Regions from separate parts of the Homo sapiens genome. Here regions 2, 3 and 4 are each reported to be linked to region 1. Evidence: microRNA targets listed by miRTarBase, many of them from high-throughput screens and not tested one by one. Region 1 holds a microRNA gene; each other region holds the end of a gene's coding sequence.

Evidence for each region. The annotated mature microRNA hsa-miR-6801-3p reads ACCCCUGCCACUCACUGGCC and lies in region 1 at 6,353-6,372, shown strand. An mRNA with a match to its seed (bases 2 to 7 or 8) in the 3' UTR can be bound and repressed. Matches are read on the target gene's strand: a 7mer-m8 pairs with bases 2 to 8, a 7mer-A1 pairs with bases 2 to 7 and ends in A, and an 8mer does both.
Region 2: the mRNA of ROBO4 is a reported target of hsa-miR-6801-3p. Seed matches in the 3' UTR shown: 7mer-m8 at 1,062-1,068.
Region 3: the mRNA of CPE is a reported target of hsa-miR-6801-3p. The part of its 3' UTR that is shown has no 7-base or 8-base seed match.
Region 4: miRTarBase lists PFKL as a target of hsa-miR-6801-3p. Seed matches in the 3' UTR shown: 7mer-A1 at 1,827-1,833.

Annotation. Positions count from the first base shown.
Region 1 is chr19:52,215,722-52,223,828 of GRCh38, forward strand. MIR6801 (microRNA 6801) reads left to right here and starts at 6,299; the gene lies at 6,299-6,377. It overlaps PPP2R1A (protein phosphatase 2 scaffold subunit Aalpha), which reads left to right. Exons shown (of 15, transcript NM_014225.6): 7 at 58-172; 8 at 283-353; 9 at 808-942; 10 at 3,970-4,143; 11 at 4,468-4,528; 12 at 5,258-5,412; 13 at 6,378-6,520. RefSeq lists an enhancer at 5,839-7,038.
Region 2 is chr11:124,881,032-124,885,095 of GRCh38, reverse strand. It overlaps ROBO4 (roundabout guidance receptor 4), which reads left to right. Exons shown (of 18, transcript NM_019055.6): 17 at 1-55; 18 at 183-1,405. The coding sequence ends at 205. ROBO3 (roundabout guidance receptor 3) reads right to left here. Exons shown (of 28, transcript NM_022370.4): 28 at 3,625-3,857. The coding sequence ends at 3,846. Among named protein-coding and RNA genes, the nearest start is that of ROBO4, 15 kb to the left of the region's middle. RefSeq lists a silencer at 2,029-2,323.
Region 3 is chr4:165,497,399-165,500,398 of GRCh38, forward strand. It overlaps CPE (carboxypeptidase E), which reads left to right. Exons shown (of 9, transcript NM_001873.4): 9 at 114-1,149. The coding sequence ends at 212. Among named protein-coding and RNA genes, the nearest start is that of MIR578, 110 kb to the left of the region's middle.
Region 4 is chr21:44,325,281-44,329,766 of GRCh38, forward strand. PFKL (phosphofructokinase, liver type) reads left to right here. Exons shown (of 22, transcript NM_002626.6): 20 at 681-780; 21 at 879-984; 22 at 1,435-2,093. The coding sequence ends at 1,582. It overlaps CFAP410 (cilia and flagella associated protein 410), which reads right to left. Exons shown (of 7, transcript NM_004928.3): 7 at 3,664-4,486. Among named protein-coding and RNA genes, the nearest start is that of CFAP410, 12 kb to the right of the region's middle. RefSeq lists a silencer at 2,986-3,280 and an enhancer at 4,239-4,368.

The DNA.
Region 1 (8,107 bases):
AGCCCAGAGTAAACTGCCAGCCCCTCTCACTCTCCCCCTCCTCCTTCCTGTCTGCAGCTCCAGAAAGCAGTGGGGCCTGAGATCACCAAGACAGACCTGGTCCCTGCCTTCCAGAACCTGATGAAAGACTGTGAGGCCGAGGTGAGGGCCGCAGCCTCCCACAAGGTCAAAGGTTGGTGCTGGCAGCCGGAACACAGCAAGTGGGGTGGGTATCCAAGGGGCTGGAGGTGGAACTAGCACATCAGGTCTCACTTCCCTTTGCCTCCCTCTCCCTGCCCACAGAGTTCTGTGAAAACCTCTCAGCTGACTGTCGGGAGAATGTGATCATGTCCCAGATCTTGCCCTGCATCAAGGTAACAGAGAGTTTGATGGGAGGAACCAAGTGGATCCGAGCCTGCCAAAAAGAGGGGCTGGAGACAAGGCTTTGGGGATAGTCAGCTGCAAACTAGGTTCCCAGCCCTCTGGGACCAGGCAGCTCTTGGGTTTCAAGCAGTTAGGGGTCCTGACTGCAGCTTGAGGCTGACCTTAAAGGTGGAAGTACTTTCTAGAACCTCAGATGTCACTGAGTCCTGTCATTCACAGGGTTTTGGGGTTGGAGTGGGGGCTGCTGAGAGCAGGGGTCATTGAACTCTTAAGTAGGTGGTACTCATAAGGAATAGTGATTTCCCCTGTACCCTAAGCCATCCCCTGCTCTATGAATGAGAGGGGCAGAAGCAGGTTATTGTCTCTTAGGAGTTGGCATCTGCTTAGCCACTTGCTGCTGCAGGGGTTGCACTGACCCCTGTGCCTGCCTCTTCTCTCTCCCAGGAGCTGGTGTCCGATGCCAACCAACATGTCAAGTCTGCCCTGGCCTCAGTCATCATGGGTCTCTCTCCCATCTTGGGCAAAGACAACACCATCGAGCACCTCTTGCCCCTCTTCCTGGCTCAGCTGAAGGATGAGGTAAGGGCACCAGGATCTCAGCTCTGGGTTTGTGGAGGGGACAGGCGGGTCTTCCTAGATTGCTAGGGTTTACCTAGATTGACCAGGAATCTGCTGATATCTCAACAGACATCCAGATCTTTGCTGAGTTGCATGTTTGTGGGCATAGCTGTGTGTTCATGCGTTCATTCCTCCAGGCACTCTTCATGAGGCCTTTCCTGGACATGGAGGATATGAAAAATAGAAATTTAAAGTTTTTATTTATGGCCAGGCGCGGTGGCTCACGCCTGTAATCCCAGCACTTTGGGAGGCTGAGGCGGGTGGATCACCTGAGGTCAGGAGTTCGAGACCAGCCTGGCCAACATGATGAAACCTCGTGTCTGCTAAAAATGCAAAAATTAGCCAGGCATGGTGGCGAGTGCCTGTAATCTCAGCTACTCGGGCAGCTAAGGCAGGAGTATCACTTGAACTCAGGAGGCAGAGGTTGCAATGAGCCAAGATTGCACCACTGCACTCCAGCCTGGACAACAGAGCAAGACTCTGTCTCAAAAAAAAAATTATTTATTTATGTTTTGAGATAGGGTCTTGCTCTATTGCCCACACTGCAGTGCAGTGATGTGATCATGGTCTACTGCAGCCTCCACCTTCCAGGCTCAAGTGATCCTCCCACCTTAGCCTCCCAAGTAGCTGGGACTACAGGCAAGAGCCACCACATCTAGATAATTTTAAAAAACATTTTCCATAGAGACAAGATATTATGTTGCCCAGGTTGGTCTTGAACTCCTGATCTCAAGCAGTCCTTTTGCCTTGGCCTCCAAAGGCCTGGGATTATAGGCGTGAGCCGCTGCCCCCAGCCTAGAATAAGAGTTTTGATCCCCAAAAGCCTTCAGAGACTGGCAGTGGAGAGAGACAGGCAGTCCCATGATGCCATTAAGGTGTTACAGGTGCTGTTAAGGATGAGTTCATGTTTTTTAGGGTTTAGGCTAAGGTGCTCTAATATAGACCCCAGAATACATTCTGGCTTAAATTCGGTGGTGGATTTTTTTTCTCTCTCTCATAACAGTCTAGGACGAGATTCCTCACATGTGCTTGCACCCCATACACCCATTGGCCAGGAGGGTCACGTGACCACACCCAGCAGTTCAGGTTGCCTGTATTACAAAGGATGAGAGGCGGTGCTGGGTGATGACTGGAGAGATCATCAGGGTGACCACTGGGGAAGGAGTTTGGACTTGACTGTGGGCAAGCGGAAGAGCCAGAATAGAGTTGGTGTTAGAAGGCACCCTGAGGCTTATGTGAAGGAAGGATTGAAGTGAGGTGGCCAGCAGCAGTGTAGGCAGACCAAACCGGAGGCTGTGGGAGTCTGGAAGGCTGAGGCTAGACTAAGTGGTATGTAGAGATGAGGCTGCATTGATACGGAAGGATTCAAGATTGTTCAGGAGGCAGAAGGGACCACGTGGTGGTTTTTGCCTTGGTGGTGAAAAACTGGGCAGATGGTGCAATTGTGTGCTGGTGTGTGACATCTTTCCCAAAAGATGGGAAGTGTGTGAGGCTTCCCAAAAGCCTCAGTCTTTCTTCCCCATCCCCTTCTTTCTTTTTTATACACAGGCGCCCACACAGTCTGCTAGAAAGTTGGAGGAAATACTGTAACAGAAAGTACTGCATCACATTTCAGTCCTCCATGCCCCTAAAAGTTACGTTATTCAATTCTGTTACAGTGGAGTAATCTCTTAGCCCCAGAATTACAGTGAATTTTTTAATACATTGAAAAGAGTGCGCTATTTTTAATATTTTTTTGTTCTTTTTGTTTTTCCCTATTAGTGGGTGATTAACTGTACTGGTTTTAATCAGTTAATTACGTCAGTTGCTAAAAGTCTGAATCTTCATTAGTGTTCATGACAAATTTTATGACTTAAGTAATTTATCTGAGTTATGCTTCACATGCACATAGTTTTTATAATTTTATAGATATTAATACAATTTATATTTGTTTTTGATGCTTTAATGGGCATAATTTGGCAGGTGAGAGCCCCTCAAGTTGTCTGCTATGTCATTTCACACCTCTCCAGCGTTTTGGGGATCATTTTGCCTCTGGCATGAGGGAAGGATCCAGGCTCAGCCCAGTTTGAAGGCAAGCCCATACGTGCTGCAAGTGCGCTAGGACTGGAGCATTTTTTGCTCCAGTTTCACCTTCAGCAAGCGCTATATGGTAATCGTGTGCTGGCAGCCAGCCTGTCTCAGGGCAGCTTCTCTTAGAAGAAAAGAACCAGCATGGTTTTCTTGGTGTGAGGAATTCATCTGACTTATATTTGAGATTTCCATTTTAGATTTATAAACTTTATATTTTACATTTTGACTCTCACCAGAATTTATAAACTTGTCTAAATGAAAAAGGCTACCTTTTTACTGGTGCACCAAAAATAAGTCTTTTTAAATGGGTGAGGTATAGTCTCTGAGCCTTCTCTTCTCATGCACATGTTCAGCAGCTTGAGGCTCACACAGCAAGGGCTGGAGCTGGGCAAGGGCCAGTCCTATCCTCGGAATGTGCAGGGTTTCAACAGCCCAAGCCTGCCAGGCTTGTTCACTTGGTTATTGATTCATTTCAGTGCTCCTTTATTTATTTATTTTTTTAGACTAAAATAGTTTTAATAAGGAAATAGTTTTCTTCCTTCCCTTCTCCCATGTTGTGGATTGATACCCAGAAAGGAACCCTTGTTAGCAAGCAGCGGAGCTAGGATTAGAAGAATCATGTCTGCCTGTTTTTTCCAGGGTGCTGTATTTTCCTACTGTGATTCTTAAAGTCTTTTCAAAATGGATAAACATTTCTTGTGATACTATTGTAAGGTTTAAAAATCTGCTTAAGTTAGTGATCCATGCTGCTTGCTTTTTGTGTGCCGTTAATGTGTTCCCAGAACGGGGAGCTGGGCTTGGACAGGAGTAGTCCCTCGGGAGATGTCCATAAAAGTTGATGCAGCTGAGCTCTTTCCATCCTGTCCTGGGTTGCTGTGTGCATTGCATTCTCTCAGAATCCTTCTTTCCTCTCCTCAGTGCCCTGAGGTACGGCTGAACATCATCTCTAACCTGGACTGTGTGAACGAGGTGATTGGCATCCGGCAGCTGTCCCAGTCCCTGCTCCCTGCCATTGTGGAGCTGGCTGAGGACGCCAAGTGGCGGGTGCGGCTGGCCATCATTGAGTACATGCCCCTCCTGGCTGGACAGCTGGTGAGTGAGGAGGCCTGGGGGCCAGGCAGTGCTGCCTCAGGGGAGGTGCAGTATGTCCAGGGCTGTGATGGGGAAACGGGGCTTTGAAGGCTTAGTGGAGGCTGTGACAACTGCCTGGGGAGTCGAAGGAAGGGACCCAGGAAATAGGGCCTTAAAAGATGCATTGGATTCAATAAGAGAGAGGAGGGAAAGGAGCACCTCAGACAAAGTTGAGAAGTGTCCGGTCTTTCTAGGGTGGGTGTAGGTTCCATGGGATGTGGCTAGCAGCTCCCCCTGTTTGCTCTCCTGGAACGCTTACCTTGGAACCCTTGGTTTCTCCTGTAGGGAGTGGAGTTCTTTGATGAGAAACTTAACTCCTTGTGCATGGCCTGGCTTGTGGATCATGGTGAGTACCTTCACAGGAGCAGCAAGAGGAGATGGGAGCTCCAGAAAGGCAGGATGGATTGGCTGGGGCTGTGGCGGGCAGTGGAGGAGGCTAGAGTCACTCCCCACGCCGCTGGATGCTCGTATGGACCAGCTCGCATGCTTGTTAGAGTCCTAGAGAAGTGTTGAGTGGGAGGAGGACGAAACAGATCACCCAGGGGTTGCCTGGTATAGTGGAGAGCCAGAGGGCCACTGAGCAGCCAGACCAGGGTTTTGAATCCTGCCCTTGGGGCTGTCAGATCTAAAACAAGTCACCTGCTGTCTTTGAATGAGCCCCACACTCATTCTTTGAAACTTCTTATTCTGGTGCCTTGGGGCCATTATGAGAATGGCTCATTGTTTACACTAAGAGAGGTAAAAAATAAAAGGTAATATTTATCTCTGTGAAGCCCTGTTTGAAGTAATAAGTGCCACATAATTTAGGCAAATCACTTCTTAGAGCCTTAGTTTGCCCATCTGTAAAATGAAGCCAGTAGTGGAACCTACCTCTTGGAGTGGTTGAAAAGATACTGTATAAAAAAAAACAGTTACTAGATATAGCACATAGTAAGTCCTTTTTTCTCTCTTTGGCTCACATGCAGCCTGGCACCTAGGGGCTGCTTTGTAAGCCATGGTGAGTGTGACCTACATTTTGCCCACATCAGTTCTTCACCTCCAAATCCCTGTCTCTCTCACCCTCACCCTTCTGCAGTATATGCCATCCGCGAGGCAGCCACCAGCAACCTGAAGAAGCTAGTGGAAAAGTTTGGGAAGGAGTGGGCCCATGCCACAATCATCCCCAAGGTCTTGGCCATGTCCGGAGACCCCAACTACCTGCACCGCATGACTACGCTCTTCTGCATCAATGTGAGCCTTCCACCTGCCTGCTGGCCCATCCCTAGGGAACTGGAGCGCGTGGGAGAGGAGGGATGCTAGAGGGTTCCCCAAGGGAGACACCTGGCTTGGGAATGGAGACATGGAGTGCATCTTCTATCCAGAGATGAGTCCTTGGGGAACTGCAGGCAAGGGGGTGGGGCTCCCAGGGTCAGGGTCATAGGGCCTCTGGGACTGGGGACTTGGATGGTGAGGGACCCAGGGCCTGGGAGACTTGACCTGTTGGAGCAGCGATCTCAAGCTTTATGAGCACCCCTCTCCTTCCCTGAGAAATGTGTGTCTCTATCTGTGGTGCGTTGGGTGAGTGTATGGGCTCTAGGTCAGACCTAGTTTTAAATTCTGGTACTGCCATATATTAGCTATGGACCTTGGATAGTTACCTAACCGATGCTTTGGTCTTCTCATTTGTAAATAATTCATACTGTAAAGAATTCATACTGGTAATCACAGCCTGGTGAGCGTGAAGATTAATCAGGTTATACACGCACAGGGCTTAGAACAGTTATGCTACAGGTAGGAAGTGCTCCTGTCTATTTGCTTTTCCTACGATTATAATTATCTCATGTACTACTTATTTATGTGTAAACCATACACAGGGCTAGAAAGGAAGGGATTTAAAAATAAATATAACTAAGTGTTCTGATCATTTCTTCCCACGCCACTCTCTGGAGAGCATTGCTTTAAGGAGGGATCCTAGGGCTTGGTAATTAAGGTCGATCTCCAGAATAATTAAGGGAAGCCTGAGGACAGAGAAACTGGGACATGGTGTTAGGATGGTGTTAGTGGAGTTGGGAGATTCACTCCACTAACTGAGTCACCCGTATTGCTCAGCCTCTGTGGGGCCTGATGATCACCAGAGTGGCCTGGTCAGAGGCAGCAGGAAATGAGAGTTAGCCAGGAGCTTTGCATACTCACCCCTGCCACTCACTGGCCCCCAGGTGCTGTCTGAGGTCTGTGGGCAGGACATCACCACCAAGCACATGCTACCCACGGTTCTGCGCATGGCTGGGGACCCGGTTGCCAATGTCCGCTTCAATGTGGCCAAGTCTCTGCAGAAGATAGGGCCCATCCTGGACAACAGGTGAGGTCTGGATACTCCCCCACACACTGGCAGGGGCTTCTTGTGGGCACCTTAATCTTTGACCTTTGAAGGTAGAGCCCAGGGTCAGAGGCCTGGCAGCGCTCCTTGCTTGCTGTGTGACCTTGGCTCCCTTCCCTTCTCAAGGTGTGTTTTCTCAACTGTAAAATGAACATCACAGCATGAAATAGAAAGAGGGGGTGATGGGTTGGCAGTCCTGTATACTAGCAACAAGTCATTAGAAAATGAAATCACCTTATGTTTTATATGTAAGTATGTGTATAATTTATAATTGCACCAAAAATATCAAATAGCCAGGAATAAATTCAATGAAAGATGTGTATGTAACACCTCTAATGTAAACTGTAAAACACTAATGTGAGAAATTAAAGCAGACCTGACCAAGGTGGGCGGATCAGTTGAGGTCAGGAGTTCACGACCAGCCTGGCCAACATGGCGAAACCCCGTCTCTAGTAAAAATACAAAAAATTAGCCGGTGCGGTAGCACTCACCTGTAATCCTAGCTATTTGGGAGGCTGAAGGCAAGAGAATTGCTTGAATCCAGGAGGTGGAGGTTGCAGTGAGCTGAGATCATGCCACTGCACTCCAGCCTGGGCGATAGAGCGAGACTGTCTCAAAAAAAATTAAAGCAGACCTACATAATATTCACGGATGGGACAGTTCCCTGAACTCATCTTTAGATTCAGTATAAGCCCAATAATCTTAACAGGTTCTTTAGTGGAAAATTGACACTTCTAATGAACAAAGTTGTCTGATTTACACTACCAGAGACGAAGACTTATGACACCACAATAATTAAAATAGATGTGAACACAAGCATATTTAAATCGCCCAATAGAATGGAATCAAGGGTACAGAAACAGTCCCACATGTGTTTAACAGTAGGCATCTCTGCAGTTCAGTGGAGAAATGTATGTTTTTTAAAAAACATAGCTGAGTCAATTTGATATCCATTTAGGAATAAAAGAAGGCTCGCCTCAATGCATAAACAAATTAATTTGAGATGACAGACCAGAACCAGAAAGATTTTAAAAATAAAGGACCTAGAAGAAAATGTAGGAAAATATCTTCTTGAGTTAGCGTAGGCACAGATTTGTTAAACAGCAAACCAGAGGAAGTGATGGGTAAGTTGACCTTCTGTAAAATGTAACGCTGTTTCTCAAAAGACAGCATTTTGAGAGTAAAATGCAAGCCACTGACTGGAGGAAGATGTTTTAATATATGTTTCTGAGAAAGGACTCATCCACAATACCTGTCTACAAATCAGGCAAGACAAGAAAGAGATGGGGAAAAAGACTTGAATAGGCACTTGAAAAAGGATCTCCAAATAGCCAGTAAGCATATGACAAGGGTGTTCAGCATCATTAGCCTTCAGGAAAATGCAAATTAAATCTCAGTGACATATGACTACACGCCTCCCAGAACAGCCAACATTAAAAAAGACTCAGTGGTGCAAATGGTGAAGACATAGAAGAGCTGGAACTCTCATCCATTGCACGTGGGGCTGTACATTTAGGGTTTGATCACTCTGAAAACGGGAGTGGATCTGGAGTGGAATTTGGTGAAGCT
Region 2 (4,064 bases), not on the chromosome of region 1:
TCTCAGATCTCTTCCCAGAGAAGTCAGCTCCACTGTCGTATGCCCAAGGCTGGTGGTGAGTGTCTGTCTTCCTGGCTAATGTGTTCATCTTGACCAGAGGGCCTCTGGGAAGAAGCCAGGAGGAAGCCTGGCACTGGGGAAGGGAGATAAGGAGCAAGGGAGATAACTCCACTGTCCTTCAGCTTCTCCTGTAGATTACTCCTGAACCGTGTCCCTGAGACTTCCCAGACGGGAATCAGAACCACTTCTCCTGTCCACCCACAAGACCTGGGCTGTGGTGTGTGGGTCTTGGCCTGTGTTTCTCTGCAGCTGGGGTCCACCTTCCCAAGCCTCCAGAGAGTTCTCCCTCCACGATTGTGAAAACAAATGAAAACAAAATTAGAGCAAAGCTGACCTGGAGCCCTCAGGGAGCAAAACATCATCTCCACCTGACTCCTAGCCACTGCTTTCTCCTCTGTGCCATCCACTCCCACCACCAGGTTGTTTTGGCCTGAGGAGCAGCCCTGCCTGCTGCTCTTCCCCCACCATTTGGATCACAGGAAGTGGAGGAGCCAGAGGTGCCTTTGTGGAGGACAGCAGTGGCTGCTGGGAGAGGGCTGTGGAGGAAGGAGCTTCTCGGAGCCCCCTCTCAGCCTTACCTGGGCCCCTCCTCTAGAGAAGAGCTCAACTCTCTCCCAACCTCACCATGGAAAGAAAATAATTATGAATGCCACTGAGGCACTGAGGCCCTACCTCATGCCAAACAAAGGGTTCAAGGCTGGGTCTAGCGAGGATGCTGAAGGAAGGGAGGTATGAGACCGTAGGTCAAAAGCACCATCCTCGTACTGTTGTCACTATGAGCTTAAGAAATTTGATACCATAAAATGGTAAAGACTTGAGTTCTGTGAGATCATTCCCCGGAGCACCATTTTTAGGGGAGCACCTGGAGAGATGGCAAGAATTTCCTGAGTTAGGCAGGGATCAGGCATTCATTGACACTCAGGGAGTGTCACACATTTCTGTTCTGCAATTAAAGGGAGAATGAGGTTCATCCACCAAATTTTAAGCAGAATATAGGAAGGGCAGGGGTGGGGAGTTTCAGGGTCTGCTGGTCCTGGCAACTTATATTAAATCCACCTCCTCAAGATAAGCCTTAGGGATATTTATGGCTGAGGGAAGTGGGATGGTCTAAGGCATGGGGAAGGGTGATTGGCTGTGGGGAAAATGAAGTAATAGGTTCATTCTGCCCAAGTGTACTTGGGGTTCATGGCATTTCATAAGGACATTTGTGTAGAAAATTGTTTTGCTGGCTGGGCACGGTGGCTCACGCCTGTAATCCCAGCACTTTGGGAGGCGGAGGTAGGCAGATCATGAGGTCAGGAGATCGAGACCATCCTGGCTAACATGGTGAAACCCCGTCTCTACTAAAAAAAAAAAAAAAATACAAAAAATTAGCCAGGCGTGGTGGCGGGAGCCTGTAGTCCCAGCTACTCAGGAAGCTGAGGCAGGAGAATGGTGTGAACCCGGGAGGCGGAGCTTGCAGTGAGCCGAGATCGCCCACTGCACTCCAGCCTGGGTGAGAGAGAGAGACTCGGTCTCAAAAAAAAAAAAAGAAAAAAAAAAAAGAAAAGAAAATGGTTGTGTTATGATCTGAGGGTGGAGTTTTTGGCCCTCCGATGTCAAAAGGCCACCCCTCGAGCACTTGCAGAGGCCCAGTAGAAAAGTCGGTGGTCTCGATTGGTTTGAGCTGGACAAGAGCTGTCCCAAGTTCCTGAAAAATGACTGTAGCGCCCATTCTCATAGTGACCTATGAATGTTACCTATAAAGTAGCCAGTGAAGGTTGTTTCCACATTCAGCAGCGAGGCCTTCAGCTACCAAAGAAGCTTTGTGCTCCATGGAAAAAGGGAAAAAACAAAAAGCAAGCAGGGCAGGCAGACTTGATCAAATTAACCCCTTGATTTCACCCATCCTGAGGAGAAAACTGCTTTCAGCAGTCCCAGATGGTTTCTTAAAATAGACAAAGCAGCTGAACTCCAGAAAAGGTAGAACCACCTGTCACGGTTGGCTTAGGAACACCCTTCAAAGAAAAAAACAGAACAGAGAGATGAACCTCGAAGCAGGACTTCCAGGGCCTGAGCCACAGGAGGCACTGGAGGGTAGGCAGGCCTGCGTCTTCCTCCCTTGGCGGGAAAGGTCGGGGGCAGAATCCACAAGTTGGTGGAGGGGATGCTACAGAGCATGACAGGGCCACAGGAAGCAGAGCCTAAAAGGGGGTGCTCATCCCTCAAACCCAGCAGCTCTACTTGGAGGCCACTGGGAGTTGAGAGGCTGAATGAGGCAGGACCATGGGGACTGGGGGCTTCCTGAACCACATTAATCAGGACAGTCTGGGCCAGATTTTTGTGATCTCAGGAGGAAGAATCAGTATTCCACATACACATCTGTTCCTCTGTATTTGCTTTTCCTTATCTGGATTTTGTGGCAGTTGCGGGGAGGAGGTTGTTTTGGTTTCTTTTTAGCTTCCTGGTAAAATTCCTTTTGAAAACATCCCAACCCTGTTTGCCAGACTGAAAGGGAAAGAGAGATTTGTACACTCACAGGTCAAAGGGGCAGACGAGGTCAGGGCCTGGGACTGGAGGGCAGCTGCCAATCCCAGAGAGTCCAGGGAAGTCACTGAGTCAAGGGTGGAGCAAGCGAGAAGGAACAAAACCTCAGGTCACCAGTGAGCACACGGGATGCAGGGCAGGAGGTGACGAGGACCACGGCATTCACCACAAAAAAGTCTTAACAGTTCTGTGCCCATCAACCCAATCACATCTGGGCCCACCAAGAGCTGCCCATTTGTACATACCCTCTGTGACGGAGTCAGATGGTTTGAAAAAGCATGCTCTTCCTTCTTGCCTGGGGTTTCTCCCATAAGCTCCTCCTTTCTTTGAGTTTTTCAAAATAATTTTTTGTGAGGGGTGTATTTTCTTGTGGGAAAGTAGACAGACCCCAGAGGAGGGCACTAAAGAAGGGCCTGGCTTGACCTTCCAAAGGTGGAACATGTGTCTTATTACTGGGCATTTGGAAAGTCTCTATGGTTGTAACTCGGGAACAGTGAGCTTCTTACTCCTTTAAGAAGCAGGACGGTACAGTCCCCACCTAGTGTTTTTTCAGTTTTTTGTTTGTTTGTTTGTTTTTGAGATAGGGTCTCACTCTGTCACCCAGGATGAAGTCCAGTGGCACAATCATAGCTCACTATAACCTCCAACACCTGGGTTCAGGCAATACTACTGCCTCAGCTTCTCAAGTAGATAGGATGACAGGTGCACACAACCATACCTGGCTAATTTATTTATTTATTTATTTATTTATTTGTGTGTGTGTGTGTGTGTGTGTGTGTGTGTGTGTGTGTGTGTGTGTGTAGACACAAGTTCTTTCTAGGTTGGCCAGGCTGGTCTCAAACTCCTGGGCTCAAATGATCCTCCTGCCTCAGCCTCCTAAAGCACTGGGATTATGAGTGTGAGCCATTGTGCCTGGCCTAACTTAGTGCTTTTGACGGAGTGGAAGGGGAAGCAGAAGCTACCAGTGTGCGTTGATATACAGGACCCTGCAGTCCCCTTCTTCCCAACCTGCTGCACAGAACCAGACAGACAGGGCCCTGGGCTCTGATCAGACTCTTTTTATTGTTTTGTTTTTTATAAACAAGTCTCAGGTGGAAAAAGAAAGAAAGGGAGGAGCTAGCTCTCTGCCTTCTCAGCCAATTGAAATCGTGGAAACCAATGGGCTTCAGCTAGCCCCACTCATCACTGCTGGGGGGGAAAAGACATCCCTACTCCCCTTCCCCGTGGCACTCATGATATTCTCAATGCCCCAACAAGGGTCATCTTGGTTCCTAGGGAGAGAGAGAGAGATGCTGTTTTGTAAAACCCTGGCCCAGGGCAAACAAGTCCAGGAAGGGCTCAGGCTTTCTCTCTCCTAACCCAGTTCTCCTACGGTGAGCCCAGGCTCCTCTATTATGTGTCATCTTGTCCTCACCCCTTGTCATTTCTTTTGTTTTGTTTGTCTGTTTGTTTGTTTGAGACAGAGTCTCACTCTGTCG
Region 3 (3,000 bases), not on the chromosome of region 1:
TTTAATTCAGGTGGCTGGATTGAGTGTATACTGAAACTGCTCTTATTTTTTTATTTCAATTTAAAAAAACACATGCAGTTTGATAATAATATGTTCTTGATTTTCTCTTTTAGGTTGATTTTGAACTGGAGTCATTTTCTGAAAGGAAAGAAGAGGAGAAGGAAGAATTGATGGAATGGTGGAAAATGATGTCAGAAACTTTAAATTTTTAAAAAGGCTTCTAGTTAGCTGCTTTAAATCTATCTATATAATGTAGTATGATGTAATGTGGTCTTTTTTTTAGATTTTGTGCAGTTAATACTTAACATTGATTTATTTTTTAATCATTTAAATATTAATCAACTTTCCTTAAAATAAATAGCCTCTTAGGTAAAAATATAAGAACTTGATATATTTCATTCTCTTATATAGTATTCATTTTCCTACCTATATTACACAAAAAAGTATAGAAAAGATTTAAGTAATTTTGCCATCCTAGGCTTAAATGCAATATTCCTGGTATTATTTACAATGCAGAATTTTTTGAGTAATTCTAGCTTTCAAAAATTAGTGAAGTTCTTTTACTGTAATTGGTGACAATGTCACATAATGAATGCTATTGAAAAGGTTAACAGATACAGCTCGGAGTTGTGAGCACTCTACTGCAAGACTTAAATAGTTCAGTATAAATTGTCGTTTTTTTCTTGTGCTGACTAACTATAAGCATGATCTTGTTAATGCATTTTTGATGGGAAGAAAAGGTACATGTTTACAAAGAGGTTTTATGAAAAGAATAAAAATTGACTTCTTGCTTGTACATATAGGAGCAATACTATTATATTATGTAGTCCGTTAACACTACTTAAAAGTTTAGGGTTTTCTCTTGGTTGTAGAGTGGCCCAGAATTGCATTCTGAATGAATAAAGGTTAAAAAAAAATCCCCAGTGCATGTATTTCAGTTCTCTAAGATTTTTGGTCTGGCATTGTGGTCTTATGATGAAAACATGTATCCTCTTAATGGCGGCTTCTCATATATTCATCCTGTACATTTTAAAATTTGTTAAGCAACTACTGTGTGCTAAGCACTGCATAGCCTCTATGTATGTTATTGTGGCAGGCAAAAGGTTCTGATTTTGGGCACAACCTTTATATAAATAACACAAAAATTAATGTTTGGACACAAACTCTAAATCAGTAACACACTGGTTAATATGTAATTATGCATTGTGATAAGTAAAATGACAAGAAAGAGTAGGGAAAGAGAAAGAATGACAGAGCAACTTAAATTAGACTGGATGAGAAGAGTCAGGGATGCATCTTAATGCACAGACCTAGAATATTGAGTGGGTGTGAGCAGTGCAGAGTGCAGGGGTGTGTGTGTGTGTGTGTGCATGGTGGTGGTGGTATGGTTGATCAATGCTGCAAGTGTAAGTTTTGGTTAAAATCGTGCTGTTATAATAGTAGGCCCCCACATATATCCTGGGTTAAACACAATGGAAGTGTATTTTTTGCTCAGGTACCTATACTGGAAAAAGACAGAAAGATGGGGTGACTTTTCTTCACACAGTCTGGGACCACGTTCTGGGATCCATTCTGACAGAAGATCTGCCATCTTCTGCACACGTCCAACACTGCCGCATTGGTGGTCGTCTCCATTGCAGCCAATAGGAAAGGGGAAAGAGCAAGGGGGAGAATGTAGAGGGTGTTCTTATGGGCAGGCCTGGGAGTGGTGTACATTACTTCTGTTCACATCACACTGCCTGGAATTGTACATTCTTTGGCCACAGTAACTGCAAGGGAGTCTGGGAAAGGTAGTCTAGAAGTGTACCCAGGTAGGTGAGGAGAAGTGGACTTTGGGACAGAATAGCAGATGCAAAGGCATTGGGGTAGGAAACACATGGCTTGATGGAGATTGAAGAAGGACAGATGTACAATTGCCTAAGAGAAGCCCACAGTGAGAAGAAAAATGAGATTGAAACTGAGCTCTGAAGAGCTTCAAAATTTTGCTTCTTGAGGTTTAGATAAGATAGGATAGACTGGAGTATGCTGCCGTAAGAAGCAACTCCAAATCTTAGCGTTCTAACTTAATAGTAATTGATTTTTCATGCAAAGTCTGTAGGTCTACGTAACTCTCCAGGAACTTTGCGCTGCATGCTGTGACACAATTATGTAGAATGTTTCCACGTGCGGTTCTGCCATCTCAGCACAAGGTTTCCTCAGTCTCCTGTGTTGGTCGCAGAAGAAGATAACTGGGGCCACTACTGCCCACAGCCCACAGGTCAGAGCTAGTTACATGGCCTTGCCTAACCACAATGTTTGGTAAGCATTGTCACTGCCGTAGTCCTCTCTCTGGTGCCAACACAACTTTGCTCTCCTGTTTCCAAAAGTAGGACTCACTTTGCAAGGGAGACGATTTACAGCCACATCAAATCATGGCTTTGAGCTTCAATTTCAGGATCTCTGAGTGATCTCACAATAGTCTCTATGTCAGGTCTGTACATGGCCAGTCCTGTTTCAGGGACAAGTAAACTAAGAAGACAGGTAAAATGCATCCCTCACCCGCAGTGTGCAGTGGTAGAACAGGATCAAGACAATGTGAGGAAACACTTCCACAGTGGTGAGGAATGAGAGGGGCCCAGCATTCAGGCCTGCAGCAACTCAGAAATCTTGCCGAGCAAATACTTTATGGGCCTCCTATTTTGGGGGTGGAAAATGTTTCTGGTTTCAGAATTCATTCTACACTTTGGCAAGAGCTTTCTTTCTTTTCTTTTTTTTTTTGAGACGGAGTCTCACTGTGTCGCCCAGGCTGGAGTGCAGTGGCGTGATCTCAGCTCATTGCAAGCTCTGCCTCCTGGGTTCATGCCATTCTCCTGCCTCAGCCTCCCGAGTAGCTGGGATTACAGGTCCCCACCACCACGCCCGGCTAATTTTTTTGTATTTTTAGTAGAGATGGGTTTTCACCGTGTTAGCCAGGATGGTCTCGATCTCCTGACCTTGTGAGCTGCCCGCCTCGGCCTCCCA
Region 4 (4,486 bases), not on the chromosome of region 1:
AGGCTCTGAGAGGCCTGCCCCTCTTTCCTGCCACCATCTGTCCCCGGCCCCAGGGGTCCCAGCCCTCACGGGCACCCACGGGCACTCCCGGCAGGCCCTCGGGCACGTGTGCCCTTCCCCAGTGAGGGGACCGAGGCCTGTATCTAGGTGAGGTCTCATTTCAAGAAGGGGTGGGGCTGGGGCTGGAGCCGGGGCCCGAGCCAGGGCATTCACATGCTGAGCCGAGCTCCCCACCCCTGCCAGGCCTCCCGCGGCCACTTCCGCCGAACCCCTCACCTAGATCCCCGCATGCTCCCTGCCTTATGGTGGCCCTGCAGGAAGCCCGCGTCCTGGGGTTTTCTGAGCCAGGGAGGGGAGTCAGGGTGGCTGGGCATGGGGCCCGAGGTGATGGGGCCCGAGGTGGGGCCGCTGGCTGCCGATGCAGGGCCCAGGAGTCACTTGACTTGGCCAGGGGCAGCCGACTGCCGGCCTCGGGAGGCAGCTTCTGGCCTGGACTTGGAGCTGGAGAGAGCAGGCAGGGTCCTCGATCGGGAACAGACGGGAACGGTGCACGGGTTGGAAGGAATGGGTGTTCACAAGCTGCCTGGGAGGCTCCCCGTGGGGATCCTGTCTGCACTGGCGTTGGCCTTGGCCCAGGCAGCCCAGGGGAGTCCAGGGAACCGGGCCTCACCTGTTTCCAGGGTGGCGCTCCAACCCCCTTTGACCGGAACTATGGGACCAAGCTGGGGGTGAAGGCCATGCTGTGGTTGTCGGAGAAGCTGCGCGAGGTTTACCGCAAGGGTAGGTGGTGGGTGCGACCCGAGGCCTCACTTTGCCCTCCCCTGGCTCCCTGGGGCAGGGCCTCACCATGGAGGGCTGCCACGTGCCTCTGTTTGCAGGACGGGTGTTCGCCAATGCCCCAGACTCGGCCTGCGTGATCGGCCTGAAGAAGAAGGCGGTGGCCTTCAGCCCCGTCACTGAGCTCAAGAAAGACACTGATTTCGAGTGAGTTCCACCAAAGCCTCGTGGAGGCGGGTGGGGCTGAGGGGTGGCCCAGACCTTCCCTGAGGCAGGTGTGCCAGGCCCAGCCCCACTGGCACCCTGACCCCGCAAGGCCTCCTGGGCCCCCATGCCCAGGTCCCCGCCAGGCCGTGGAGAGCAGGGACCATGCCCAAGTCTTCTGAGCACAACACTGGGCAATCCTTTCGGGTGGGCATGGGGGCACAGCGGGTAGCCAGGAGTGGGCACGCTTGAGGGCGGCTGAGGCTGACTCTGTGCTGTGCCTCCGAGGGATGGGGACCCCAGACCTGTCCCAGCTCCACGGATACCGAGATGTTCAGACAGAGGGGCATGCACAGGCTGCAGGGTCGGGGGGGGTGGGGGGGCTGGGGACGTGGCTGAAGAGCTGCCCTGACCCCTGACTCCCCATCATCCTCCCATCCCCGTCCTGCACAGGCACCGCATGCCACGGGAGCAGTGGTGGCTGAGCCTGCGGCTCATGCTGAAGATGCTGGCACAATACCGCATCAGTATGGCCGCCTACGTGTCAGGGGAGCTGGAGCACGTGACCCGCCGCACCCTGAGCATGGACAAGGGCTTCTGAGGCCAGCCATGCCCACGCCCCTCCCCAGCCCCCACCCATGCCAGCGCAGCGCCAGGGCTCAGATGGGGCCTGGGCTGTTGTGTCTGGAGCCTGCAGGCAGGTGGGGGCTGCGTCCCTGCTCAGCCCATCCCCTGCCTCTATCCCTGGCCACCTGCCAGGCCTCCCTCGGGCTGGTGTCTTGAGACCAGCCTGCCAGGCCCTCCAGCAGGAGGACAGAGTGCCCTGGGGCATCCACCTTCCTGCCCAGGGGACGTGGCGCTGTCGGTGTTTGGAGGCTGCTGCCCCCTGGCTTTGGCGCCCCATGGGCCCTCAGCGTCTCCCCATGCTGGGCTCACTACATGGGCCAGCCCTTGCTCTACCTGGCCGGTAGGCTGCTGGCGCCTAGGTTGTGTTGAGAGGGGGATGCCCCTGGCCCTGCCTCACTGTGACCTGCTCCTGCCCACGTGCAGCACCTGTCACCTTTTCTAGAAATAAAATCACCCTGACTGTGGGGTGCATCGGTCTCCGGAGAGCACAGCCTGCAGAACTCCTCAGAGAGAGGGGGGAGCAGCACCGAGCGGCCAGCCCAGTGGGCAGCAGCCCCAGGGGTGGAGGGCCCTCTGGCCAGTGCCTGGGCCAGGTCAAAGGGACATGTGCCCTGAGAGGCCACAGGTGCTCTCCAGGACTCCCTGGGGGCCACCAGGGTGACCTGAGCCCCTCCTGGTCCTCCCCTGGGGGCAGAAGGGTACAGCCTCACTCCTCTGTCTCCCCAACCTCAGCCTGAGTGGGGGTCTCCAACCTGCAGGCTGGTGGCTGGCTTGAGCCAGTATCCAGGAGACATTGATGGTGGACACGCAAGAGGGGAAAAGAAGGCAGCGCAGAGCTGCGCCCACCAGGGGCTAGGGCTGAGTCCTGCAGGCGGCTACGGGGTGGTGGACGCCCTGCTTGCAGGATGCCTGTTAACCTCAGCGTCGAAGCCTGCGCTCTGCATCATGAACGTGGGAGGTGCTTGCCCAAGAGGGCTGCTTCCTGCCCGCAGTGCCACCCTGGGGATGTGGTTTTGGGACACAGGAGGTGTCTCAAGGGAGACCCTGGCTTGGAGGGGCCTAAGGGCCACTTTGAGGGCCCCTGGGCAGTCTCCTGGTTGAGCTCAGGCCAGTGGGGTGGCCTAGGGACCTGGTGAAGGGGCTGGGGACCCTCTTGCCCTCGGGCACCTTGATATTCCCAAGAGCCCCTCACTGTGTTGGCCCTAGTGCCGGAGGCCTCCAGATTGCTTAACTCGAGCTGGGGTGGAGGGGCCCACACCTAGTGGCCTTCTAGTTCATTCTGAGCTGGGCCATCCTGGGGCCAGGCCCAGGAGTGGACAGTTGTCCAAGGACAGTGCTCCGGGGTCTGCAGCTCTGTCTCAAAGGAAGAGAGAAACAGGTTCATAGGCCCAGGGAACCACACAGGCATGCTCTGGGGGCCTCCGTTGTGTCACACCGTCTGGGATCAGGACTCAGTTCTGAGTAGACCCCCTCGGCCTGCCCTGCCTGATGAGGTGTTAGAACCTGTTCAGCTGCCACTCAGCTGCTGCACCCAGGTGGTCGCCTGTGGCTGATGCCCGGGACAGTGGCTGCCTCCCTCCTGGGCGACGTGGTGTGGCGAGCGCCTGCGTCAGGCCCACTTCTGGCTGCGTGGAGTTGGCGTTTCTGGCATTTCGGGCAGAGTGACGCGACCTCCTGGGCCCTTGGTCCTCTCCTGTGAACTGGGTGAATGGGACAGAGTGTGATGCCAGTGCTGCTCGGCTTGAGAACCCATTTTTGGGGTGACTTGGGGAGGAGTGGAGTGGGACTGTGGGGTGCCCCGGGCTGGACGTGCTTCTGGCTGTCCTCCATGGCTGGGTGCATTGGGTGAGGAGGTGCCGGGAGGGGAACAGGCAGGAGGCGGCAATGGTGGGGACGGGGTAGGGGGAACCGTGGGGCTGAAGGCAGGCAGCTGCCCCCACAGGTCCCACCCAAGGTGTGCATGATGTGGGGCAGGAGGGCGCTGGTGTAAGCCCCGCATGTCCACGGCAGCCCATGTCGGGGGAAGTGGAAGGGACTCAATTTAAAACGACCTCAACCATTCCAACAAAGCGCTTTACTGAGGGCACCCACTCCACAGTCCCAAGGAGGCAGACACAGGCCTGAACTGTCCACCCTCTATGTCCCGAGTGGTGACTCCACTCCCCACTGCTCAGAGATCACACCCCTTCTGGAGAGCTTGCATCCCTTCTGGAGAGCTTGCACGGATGAGTGACTGTCTTCACCCTGGGCTTCCCCAAGTCCGGCGACAGTGGCTGCCCCAGTGCTGCAGCTGGCTCTGGTGACGGTGGCACGGCATGGCCCCGAGCTTGGGAGAACAGCGGCCTGCACACACGGTCACGCATCACCGCTCGGCGGAGGATGGGAATATCTCATGGAGATCTGGATCTCAACCCCACATGGGACAAGGGCCCAGGGACCTGGCTTTCCTACACACCAGCTGGAAGGCTGACTCCCCATCTCACGTGAATGCTTCCTTGGTTTTGGGGGGCACTAGGAAGGTCCCCAGGGCCACGGGTCACTGCCCAGATTGTGGCATCCTCATAAGACTTGCGACTCTTCCCAGAGGAAAGAAAACCCCTCTCAGATGCTCCAAGGACTCCCCTAGTCTAGCTGCTTCCTGTGCCAGGCCCGGACCCCAGGGCGAACAGGCCTGTTCATCCACAACCTCACAGCTGAGGGCCCTCCTGCAGTTCTTCACAGGAGAGAGAAAGGAAGGCGCACCTGCCCAGCCCGGCCAAGAAAACAAAACTCTCTCCCATGGGTGCGGGAGGCTGCTGCCTGCCTGCTGAGCAGCTCAGGGCAGATGTCGCTATGGGTGCCAGCATTCTCGAAGTCTCCCTTGCCCAACAGAAATCTA